Linked DNA regions of Homo sapiens. The protein of the gene in region 1 purifies or fractionates together with the protein of each later gene. This does not show direct contact. Each region holds a gene or a part of one and is shown in the gene's direction. Other genes may lie near its edges. The genes, in order: MINPP1, MRS2 and UBE2V2.

Region 1 (3,662 bases):
AAACCAATTCACAGGCCCAGCACAGTGAAGCACAGGAGACCCAAAACATCAGTGCGTTTTGTGCTGCTGTCAGTAGTTTTTGTCCAAAGCAGAATCTTTGTAAAGTAATACAGAGTTGGGAAGGTTAATTGAGAAAATAAAATACTCTGTTTAGACTTTGGCTTAGAGTGAAAAAATAGATTCCATATGTTGAATTCTCTCTCACCTTGTAAGTAGAAACTTTGCTGATTTTTAGTTTGCTTTCTAAAGTTTTCCGTGCCTGACAGAAACAGTACTTATTAATGTATGATGCAATTTCATTGCGTAGCATCTCTACAACACATTTAATCTTCAATCTCTATTTCTTTAGCCTTTTCTAGCTATTCTCATGCGTTACAGCCATTATAAATGGGGAATAATTTTACCCCAAGAGTTTCCTGACCAATATGTGCTTATTTCAGCTGTGCGGATTAGTAAGATGTTAGTGTTCCTTTTTCACACTTAACATTTTCAATAATTTGAAACTGTCATTTATGTCAGTGATTTACAAATACATATAAATTTTTTTCTCTTTCAGATATGGAGTTTGGACCTCCAACAGTTAATGATAAACTAATGAGATTTTTTGATCACTGTGAGAAGTTTTTAACTGAAGTAGAAAAAAATGCTACAGCTCTTTATCACGTGGAAGCCTTCAAAACTGGACCAGAAATGCAGAACATTTTAAAAAAAGTTGCAGCTACTTTGCAAGTGCCAGTAAATGATTTAAATGCAGGTAATATGTCTGTTGTCTTTTATTTGAACTTAACAGTTTAAATAATTTTGAACTGTGAAAATGAAAACATAAGGAAACAGTCTTTTTTAAAGACCCATAATTGATCTACATTAAGAAAATAATATGTTCTGGGTCAAAAAAATTGTATACCTTGTGCTTACTATTTACCATTTTTAGATTCATATTCTTCTTTGAGTGTTATTTAAATTACTGTACAAGATTCTAGTTATATTCTGGAGTTTTTTTGAGGGCAGAGTAATATAAAGCCTCAACTGTAGGCATTATTTTTAAAACAAATTATCTTTTCTGAATTTCCCCCTGATAAAGTGATACAAATGGAAAAATCATATAAATTCTTTAGCTTTTGAAGCAGTTCAAAAGTACCTGTTAATGTGTAAGAGGGGTAAGTTTTAGAAAGTGAAAAGCAAAGTACTATGATGTTTTTTGAGTTATATGTAGCAATGCTGAGAAGATGAGCAGTCATGTCTATCATAAGTTATTGCAGTGGATGGGCTGACTATGCAACTTACCATCCAAACTGGTGGGACACTTTCGAAAGTGAAAGGGAACACTATTAATAATTTTGCCAGGAAAGCAGGTGGGAAACCATGGCACATGGTCACCTAGCAATGGGAGATTAAGAAAATAAGATTTTTTTCTGTTTTCTAGGAATTTATGTTCCATAGGGTAGATGTTGACAAAGATACATGCAAAGATTGTAGATTACATTATACTCTGAATTAATTTCCAAAAGACTGGAAGTAGATGTTGGGGAAAAAATAGATTAGAATTTATCAGTCACAGGGCCTGGATGCTTTATAAGGATCAAAAAGAAGATGCCTAGACTAGCATTTGAAATTGAATTTTTTCTCTCTCTCCAAACTGGCAGTACATTGGCATCGCCTGTGGAGCTTTAAAAATTATTTACTTTATTGGGAAATAATTCAAACACGAAGATAACAAAAAAGGCTAATGTGGTGAACATCCCTATACCCACAACTTGGTTTTACTAAATTTTAACTTTGTGCTTCAGTTACTTGCCTTAAATAAATTGAGGTCTACTGGTCCCTTTCCTGGATCCCATTCTTCTTCCTTTCTCACCAGTGGTAATTGTTGTCATGAATTGAGCATTTATATTATCCCATGCCAGTTTTATACATAAATGGGATATTGTTTTGCAGATTTTAAAACTTTTAAGAGTGGTATCAAAGTTTATACCAGTCCAAAATTCTATTTTTATGCAACTTTTTGTTTTTGATGTAATGTTTGCAATTCTAGTCCTACATTTTAAATGTATGTATTTCATTCTACATCTATACCAATATCTAGCCATTATTCTGTTAGTAGGCAGTTAGGTTGTTGAAAAAGATTTTTTAAAACTATGTTTAGTCTCTGAATGGGCAAGAATTATGTATTTTACTGATGAAGTAACTGACAGCAACTTCTTTTTGGAAGCAGTATTAAGTATAGTGGTTAAAATAATGGATTCTGGAATTGGACTATTTGCATTTGAATCTTGACTCTACTATCCTATTGAATAACTATGATTTTTGACAAGTTTATTAATGTCTTTATGCCACAGTTTCCTTTTCTGTAAAATGAACATGGGAATTATTCTTGTCTTATAGGATTATTGCAAAGATTATATAAGATTAATTCATACAAAGCATTTAGTACCTGGCGCAGTAATTGCGCAATAAATACTTTTGCTATTTAAATACCCTTTTGTTTACATAGGGGGTGATGCTATATGTATTTTCAGTAACTTACTATTTTTACTTAACAATATATTTGTCTCTAGACAAATATAGAACTGTCTCATTCTTTTAAATCCTGTGTTATTTCATGGGACATATGAATGACTCGATTTGTAAGTCAATGCTAGTTAAATTGTTTAACCCATCATCGAATTTTACTGCTGTAAGAGGCTGTTGCTAATGCAGTCCAAATTCTTTTTATAGAAACCATTTTCCTACTGAAGTTTTTCTTAGTTTTTAACTCTTTCAGGTAATGCTACAGTGAACATTCTTGTAGTCTGTTTTTTACACTTGAGAGTTTATTTGTAAGATAAAATAGGTGAGGCCGAGTGCCGTGGCATAACCTATAATCCCAGCACTTTGGGAGGCCAAGGTGGGTGGATCACTGGAGCCCAGGAGTTCAAGACCAGCCTTGGCAACATGGTGAAACCCTGCCTCTATCAAAGACACAAAAGTTAGCCAGTCTTATAACTTGGTCTCCAAATAAATAAATAGATTTCTAAAAATGTTTTTTAAAGATAAATAGGTGAAATTGCTGGGTTAACACACATGAATATTTTACATCTTGACATATATTTTTAAATTGTTCTCTGAAGGTGTAGTAAAAATTTATATCCACAGTATATGAGAATGTTCATTTTCCCATATCTTCCAACAGTAGATATTATTAGTCATTTTAATTTTCGCCAATTTGATTAATGAAAAATAGTATCTAGCTTTAATTTGCAGTTCTTTGATTACTTCTGAAAGTGAACATATTTTCATGTTTAGTAGCCATTTGCATTTCTTCTAAAAATTACCCCTTCATAATTTTGTTCATTTTCTATTGGGTTATTTTTGTTTTCTTATGAATCACAAATACCTTTTATGTATTATGGATATATTAATTATATCTTTTAATTCTGCCTGACAAAGGATTCGCCCTTTGCTTGTTGTATGTTGCTAATATTTTAATTTCTTGCTTATCTCTTAGGTTTGTTGATGGTGCCTTTGATTGCACAGAAGTTTACATCTTTTACATAGCCATATCTGTCTCTTCATTATGGCTTCTGAGTGTTGTATTTTGTCTAGGAATCCTCCCACCGCAAGATTATTATGTTTTCCTATTGTCTTCCTTTTTTGTTGTTTTATTTTTTTCTCAGGGGAGTGGA
Region 2 (3,539 bases), on another chromosome or scaffold:
CTGCAGATACAGAACCCACTGACTGTGTTTTCACAGAATAGCTTATTGTAAGTTTTCTAGAACTGAACCTGGATGTGCATCTGGCACAGTGTGATGCTGGATTCTGTGTCCTCATTAGTCTAACGAGTCTACTCTGTTGCCCACATCACCTCCCATTAGGACCACTATGCCCTTTTAAAAAGTGGTCTTTATAAGATGTAAGTATTATGACACCCTTCTGCATACAACTATTCAATGGCTTTTGATTAGCCTTAGGATAAAAATCCCGTCCTGCCGCACCGACTTGTCCATCTTGTGGGTAGCCACTTGTTACTACCTCTCTCAGTGTCCTTCCCAGACATGCTGCTTCCACTCCTCTCCCCTCAGATCCCCGTTTTGCTTAGTTACTTCCTCCTCATCTTTCAGGTCTCAAAGTAGTTGTCCCTTCACTGAATGCACCGACAACCTGGCCCAGTAAAGTTACTTTGTCGTCTGCGCCCAAATAATCCTACCCTTCCATCTGCTACATTCCTTAAATCTGCAATCCCTTGTTCAAAGCCTGCAAAAGAGCATGAGCTCCTTGAAGCAAAGACAGTATTAGTCATTTTTAATGTAAAGTATAAAAGAAAAGGAAATACATGTGTTCATTCATCTCACAAATACGTTTTTTTATTGCCTGTTATATACCAAGCACTGCTTTAGGCCCATTTAGCAGTGAGTCTGCCCTTGCGTAGGTTATATTGTAGTGGAGGAGAGAGTTCATAAACAAACAAAGTATGTTAAGTGCTAAGTGCCTCAGAGAAAAATAAAGCCAGAGAAGCGGATAGAGAATGTTAGGCAGTAGGATGTGTGGCATTTTAGAGATAGGGTGGTCAAGGAAGATGTAAGGCGGTAACACCCTGGTGGAGGCAGGAAGATCTGGGGGAGAGTGTTCTAAGTAGAGGGAACCACAGAAGTAAAGATTGAGGCAGGAACGATCTGAGCTTGTTCATGAAATGGCAAGAAGGTTGGAATGGTTAGAAGAGCATGAGTCAGGTGGAAAATGAGGTCCCAGATGCAGATAAGTATGATCATGTCAGTGACGTAGAGCGTGGTAGGGGTTTGGATTTCTAAGTGGGATAGGAACCCACTGGAGGTTTGAACTCAAATCTAGATCATTGGAAAGTTCAGAAGCAAGCAGAATACCTTGTGCAACATAATCCAGCCATTGACATTCTCAAAAGATACATCCAAAGACCTTTACAGATTCCCTAAGTGTGACTACAGGACTTTCTCTACAAGTCCCTGTCTTTTCTCTAAATACATAATCATGTTTATGTATATATACTCAATCTACAAGCTAACTCCATTTTATACTTTGATATTTTTCTCTCACTTAATTGCCAACTTTTCAAAACAATGGAAGATTTTTCAAATTCCTTTCTTATAGTTTTAGTATGTGCAATCCTAGGTACAGCACAGCCCATTTGTAATGAGATAAGAGTGGTAGGTGGTAGTGAGCTACGCTTGCTCAGTAGTAGGCTGAAAAGATTCAAATTAATGTCTTATCAGAATTACAAATTACACATCTTTGTAGGTGTCCTGAAGAATAGTTGAAAACATTAAATCCATGGATGTCAAATGTCTTTATTTCGATATAGTTAAAATTAATATTTGCCATGGTGAATCTGAGATAGGAAAAATATTTTAAGATAATTTCAGACTTCTGGAAAAGTTCCAAGAATAGTCAAAGAATTTCCATTTTCTTAAACCAGATTCCAAATATCAACATTTTATCACATTTGCTTTATCATTTCTTTGCTAGCATACTTTATTCTCTAAATTATTTGAGACTAAGAACAAATGTGATGTTCCTTTACTCCTAAATGTCTTAATACGTATTTCCTAAAACATGGACATCCTCTTACATAACCACAGTGCAGCTATCAAAATCAGGAAGTTAATACTGAAGTTATTTTCCAATCTAAAGACCCTACTCAGATTTTGCCACTTATCTCAGTAGTGCTTTTTATCACAAAGAAAATCTTAGATCACATATTGCATATAGGACTGGGGGTTGTGGTTCACACCTGTAATCCCAGCACTTTGGTAGGCCAAGGTGGGCAGATCACTTTAGGCCAGGAGTTCGAGACCAGCCTGACCAACATGGTGAAACCCCATCTCTACTAAAAATACAAAAATTAGCTGGGCATGGTGCCGCACACCTGTAATCCCAGCTACTCAGGGGGGCCGAGGCACAAGAATCGCTTGAATCAGGTAGACGGAGGTTGCAGTGAGCCAAGATTGAGCCACTGGACTCCATCCTGGGTGAAGAGCAAGACTCCATCTCAACAACAACAAAAAGAGGAGGCAGATTTCTGTTCAATAAGTGACATGCATTTCCATCAGTGATAGCTGATCAGTTGTGTAACAGGCTATCTTTGAGGAAGTGAGCTCTCAATCATTGGAGCCAATGATAACAGCATAGCTATAAATGGGATTCCTTCCTTGTGAGAGATTAAATTTAAATTCTGTGATTCTGTACATTAACTAAAAACAGTGTGCTGCAAAATATTACCACTCTGAAAATGACGGTGAGGAAGAATGTTTTTCTAAGTCTGAGGTTCCCAAACTTCCTTGGATCACGATGCCCTTAGTGTCTTAGTAATTTTTTCACAGTATCGGAAGACAAAAAATTTATTATGTTACAGATTCCTTTATGTTATTTCCCTTGCAACTTTAAAATATTCTGAGGTGCTATCGTGCCCAGCATAGCACCAGACATTCAGCTCACAGTTTGAGAACTGTGGATATAAGCAAAGACCTTAAATTGCGTGTCCTCTGGCATCATGACTTAAGATTTGCACGCATGTAAACAAAGGCTGCAAAGAAACACAAAGTAAAAGCAGTACATTTGGCATATAGATGATTTTAAAATATTTAAAACCTTTTAAATCATGTTCTTCTCCTGCTTTATTCTGTGGGTGCTATCAAGGCCCTTGTTTTTCTTAGTTCCTTTCTACAGGAAAGAGCTGTACAAATAACATAAGGCTTTCAAACTCTGGGGCAGTAACAATTCAAGGAATCTTCTAAGGAACCTGGCGTTTTGCGATGGAAATGAACTGTGTTCTCTTTTAGGACCATAGAATTTTTTGGCTGATTACAGGAATTATGTTCATGGGAAGTGGCCTCATCTGGAGGCGCCTGCTTTCATTCCTTGGACGACAGCTAGAAGCTCCATTGCCTCCTATGGTATGAAGGATATGGTTCACGGCGGTATTGTGGAAGGGTTATGATCATGGGCCCTAAAGTCAGAGCGCCTGGGATTAAGTTGTCACAGGCACTATGGCCCTTGCGAGTTGCTTTCTCAAACTTCCTTCAGTTTCCCTATCTGTCAGTTAAGTCGGTATTACCTGCTTCATAGGGTTATGGGAAGAATTAAACAATATGTGTAAAGCACTTACTAGCACACTGCCTAACACAATAAGTTAGAAATATAATTTGTGTAGAACTCTGACAACATACATTTAAACAGATGTTAGTAATTCTGGTATAAGGTTTGTCATAACCAAATGGAAATG
Region 3 (2,551 bases), on another chromosome or scaffold:
TGTTTAAAATGCTTTAAGATGACACATAGAGAACATACACATACATACAAATTAGTGCATTTGTAATTTGTTAAATTTGAAATGAACTATTACCTTGAAATATAGTCTTTAAAAATTTTTAATGGTTAAAGATTAAATTGAATGAAACTGTAGTCTAATGGTAACTGATGATCTGAATCCGTCTCTCTGATAACCTCCTTTCCATTTTGAAAATGTGTCTTATTATACATGGAAGCTAGTAACTACGTGAATGCTGTTGGCAGGATGAGGGTCTGGGTACCTCAGTCTCTTGTCCTGTTTCCTTCCCCCAAATCCACCATTGTGAAGTTGCCAACCCCCTGCCGCCTTCCCCTGCCAAGTACATGTTGTCAGAGTCAGCCCTATAATGTTCATTTCCCCTCTTGTTTGTGGGATTATGGATCTCTGCAGAAATCTGCATGCCAATTAACCCATTTCTAAAGCAGAATCCATTTTGCATGTCACAATCAAGATGTACTTGGCAATCTAAGACACACTGGGAGACTGTAAGAGGAATTAATATAGAAAAGCTCTTAATTATAATAACATTTGGAAGAAATTTTTCCTTTGTTTTGTAAAGTGGCTAAGGTTGTAGGAGTGTGTGGTATTTATTACCTTTTAAATGAACTGTAAATTTGCCTTAGAAATTTGTTTAAAAGGCTAGCAAGTGAGACCCTTGAGGATGATCATATACTAATAAAGATTACCAAAAGAAACTTCTTGTCCTGTTAGGTCAGTGTTATGATTTAATGGTTTTAATTACTTAACCAATTTTAAGAATTGACAATTTTTAAAAATATTTTTTTCTACCATTCTAAAGTAATGTCTTTTGTTGTGGGTTTATGTGTAACTACAGGATTTTGGAACATAAACATTTTGAAGGATAGTCAATGGTATTTAGTCTTGGATATAAAAATAGAGAAAATTTATAGCTTTATGTTATTAAAATAATTTATCACACAGAGTGATTTGAGGTTTTCGCAGAGTAGATTTGTTTGACTCATGGTTTATTAGTCTGGATTACTTAAGAACAATATGTTGATTTTAATGTTAATTCCCACTAAATATATAATATTGATAAATACATGTGAAATTAATATTGTTTGGAAAATGTAGAGGACACAGCTGGGAATTATGAATGCTTTTTTCTTAATAGGTTTGGTGTGTGTGGCTTTGAATGGTTCTGCTGATGCATCATGGAAAGACAGCAGGGAACTGTAGCCTGCCATCAAAACTGTATCAACTCTTTTAATGAGCATGTGACTGTATTAGGTACATTTTGAAGAATATAAGTACTGATGATAAAGTCTAGTATGCATAATAGGATTTTGGAGGCATTTCAGGAATTTTCCTTTTATAGTATGCTTTTTAGGCATCTGTATGTGTAATATCATAGTATCATTTATTGCTGGGATGGATCGAAAAGCACTGCTTTTACTTTTCTGATAAGTATCAAAATGATTTTCCAGTACCAACTTGACTGGCTTTTAATTATTGTCACACACACACAAAATTCAACTCCTCAAGGTTTGGGAAAATTGTGTATTTTTTTGTATACAAGATAAAAGTGTCATAAAAAGGAATGGATGAATTGTTGATAGGAACATTAGCAGTTAATTTTTACCTGATACTGAGTTTACTGTAAAATAGGAAATGCATAGGAAGGAATACCTCCTAAATAATATGCCTTATAGAATGATGAAATCTTACCATAGTTCATACTGAAAATGTTGTTTATTTAAAAGTATTGTGGAGTGTTGAAAATAAAGATACACAATAAGTATTTTCTGAAGAGAAAATTAATGAAGGTATTTAATGATATAGGAAATAAGTGACAAGTTAAAGTCCATTTTGTTTCAATAAAGGAGTTGTGCAAACTCAAGGAGTGAGTTACATGATTGAAAAAAACCATTGGATATGAGGAGGTTGCTATGGTGTTTATATCCTTAATAGGATCTTTTCATCTAAAAAATTCCTAAGAATCTGCTCCATCTCATGTTTAAAATTAAATTTTTTTTTTTTTTTTTTTTTTTTTTTTAGAGACAGGGTCTTGCACTATCACCCAGGCTGGAGTGCATTGGTGCGATCACGATTTACTTTACCCTTGGCTATCCTGGGCTCCAGTGATCGTCCCGCCTCAGCTTCCTGAGTAGCTGGGACTACCGGTGCACGCCACCATGTCTGTTTTTGCTGTTGTTGTTGTTGTTTTGTTTTTTGTTTTTGGTAGAGACTGGGTCTCTGTTGTATAGGCTGGTCTGAAACTCTTGGCCTCAAGTGATCTTCCTGCCTTAGCCTTCCAAATGCTGGGATAACAGGCATGAGCCACCACCCCTGGCTGGCATCTCATATTTCTGTGTAGTCTATAAGACCATCTGAAAAGTTTTTGCTTCAGGTTAATTTGTGAAGTAAATGATAAAGGCTGATAGATGTTGTTTTCTTATAGAGATTCCAGGGATTATCCTTTCTCCAGTGTTTAACTGACCAAATACCATGTTAAGTGTTGTGCAGTGATCCATTTGCTGCCAAATAGATA

What was found.
Region 2: the proteins of MINPP1 (region 1) and MRS2 purify together in Homo sapiens (affinity purification with mass spectrometry; 2 studies listed by BioGRID and IntAct, with this or other methods). This does not show direct contact.
Region 3: the proteins of MINPP1 (region 1) and UBE2V2 purify together in Homo sapiens (affinity purification with mass spectrometry; one large-scale study listed by BioGRID and IntAct). This does not show direct contact.

What each region holds. Positions count from the first base shown.
Region 1 is NC_000010.11:87,507,780-87,511,441, forward strand, and holds part of MINPP1 (multiple inositol polyphosphate phosphatase 1 isoform 1 precursor), read left to right. Parts: intron 1-53; exon of another isoform or gene 54-425; coding exon of another isoform or gene 426-459; intron 460-556; coding exon 557-754; intron 755-3,662. UniProt on the Homo sapiens protein: Multiple inositol polyphosphate phosphatase that hydrolyzes 1D-myo-inositol 1,3,4,5,6-pentakisphosphate (InsP5[2OH]) and 1D-myo-inositol hexakisphosphate (InsP6) to a range of less phosphorylated inositol phosphates.
Region 2 is NC_000006.12:24,419,841-24,423,379, forward strand, and holds part of MRS2 (magnesium transporter MRS2 homolog, mitochondrial isoform b precursor), read left to right. Parts: intron 1-3,096; coding exon 3,097-3,210; coding exon of another isoform or gene 3,211-3,216; exon of another isoform or gene 3,217-3,539. UniProt on the Homo sapiens protein: Magnesium transporter that mediates the influx of magnesium into the mitochondrial matrix and regulates magnesium metabolism. Also permeable to calcium, sodium and potassium ions.
Region 3 is NC_000008.11:48,062,809-48,065,359, forward strand, and holds the end of UBE2V2 (ubiquitin-conjugating enzyme E2 variant 2), read left to right. Parts: 3' UTR 1-1,900; downstream 1,901-2,551. UniProt on the Homo sapiens protein: Has no ubiquitin ligase activity on its own. The UBE2V2/UBE2N heterodimer catalyzes the synthesis of non-canonical poly-ubiquitin chains that are linked through 'Lys-63'. This type of poly-ubiquitination does not lead to protein degradation by the proteasome.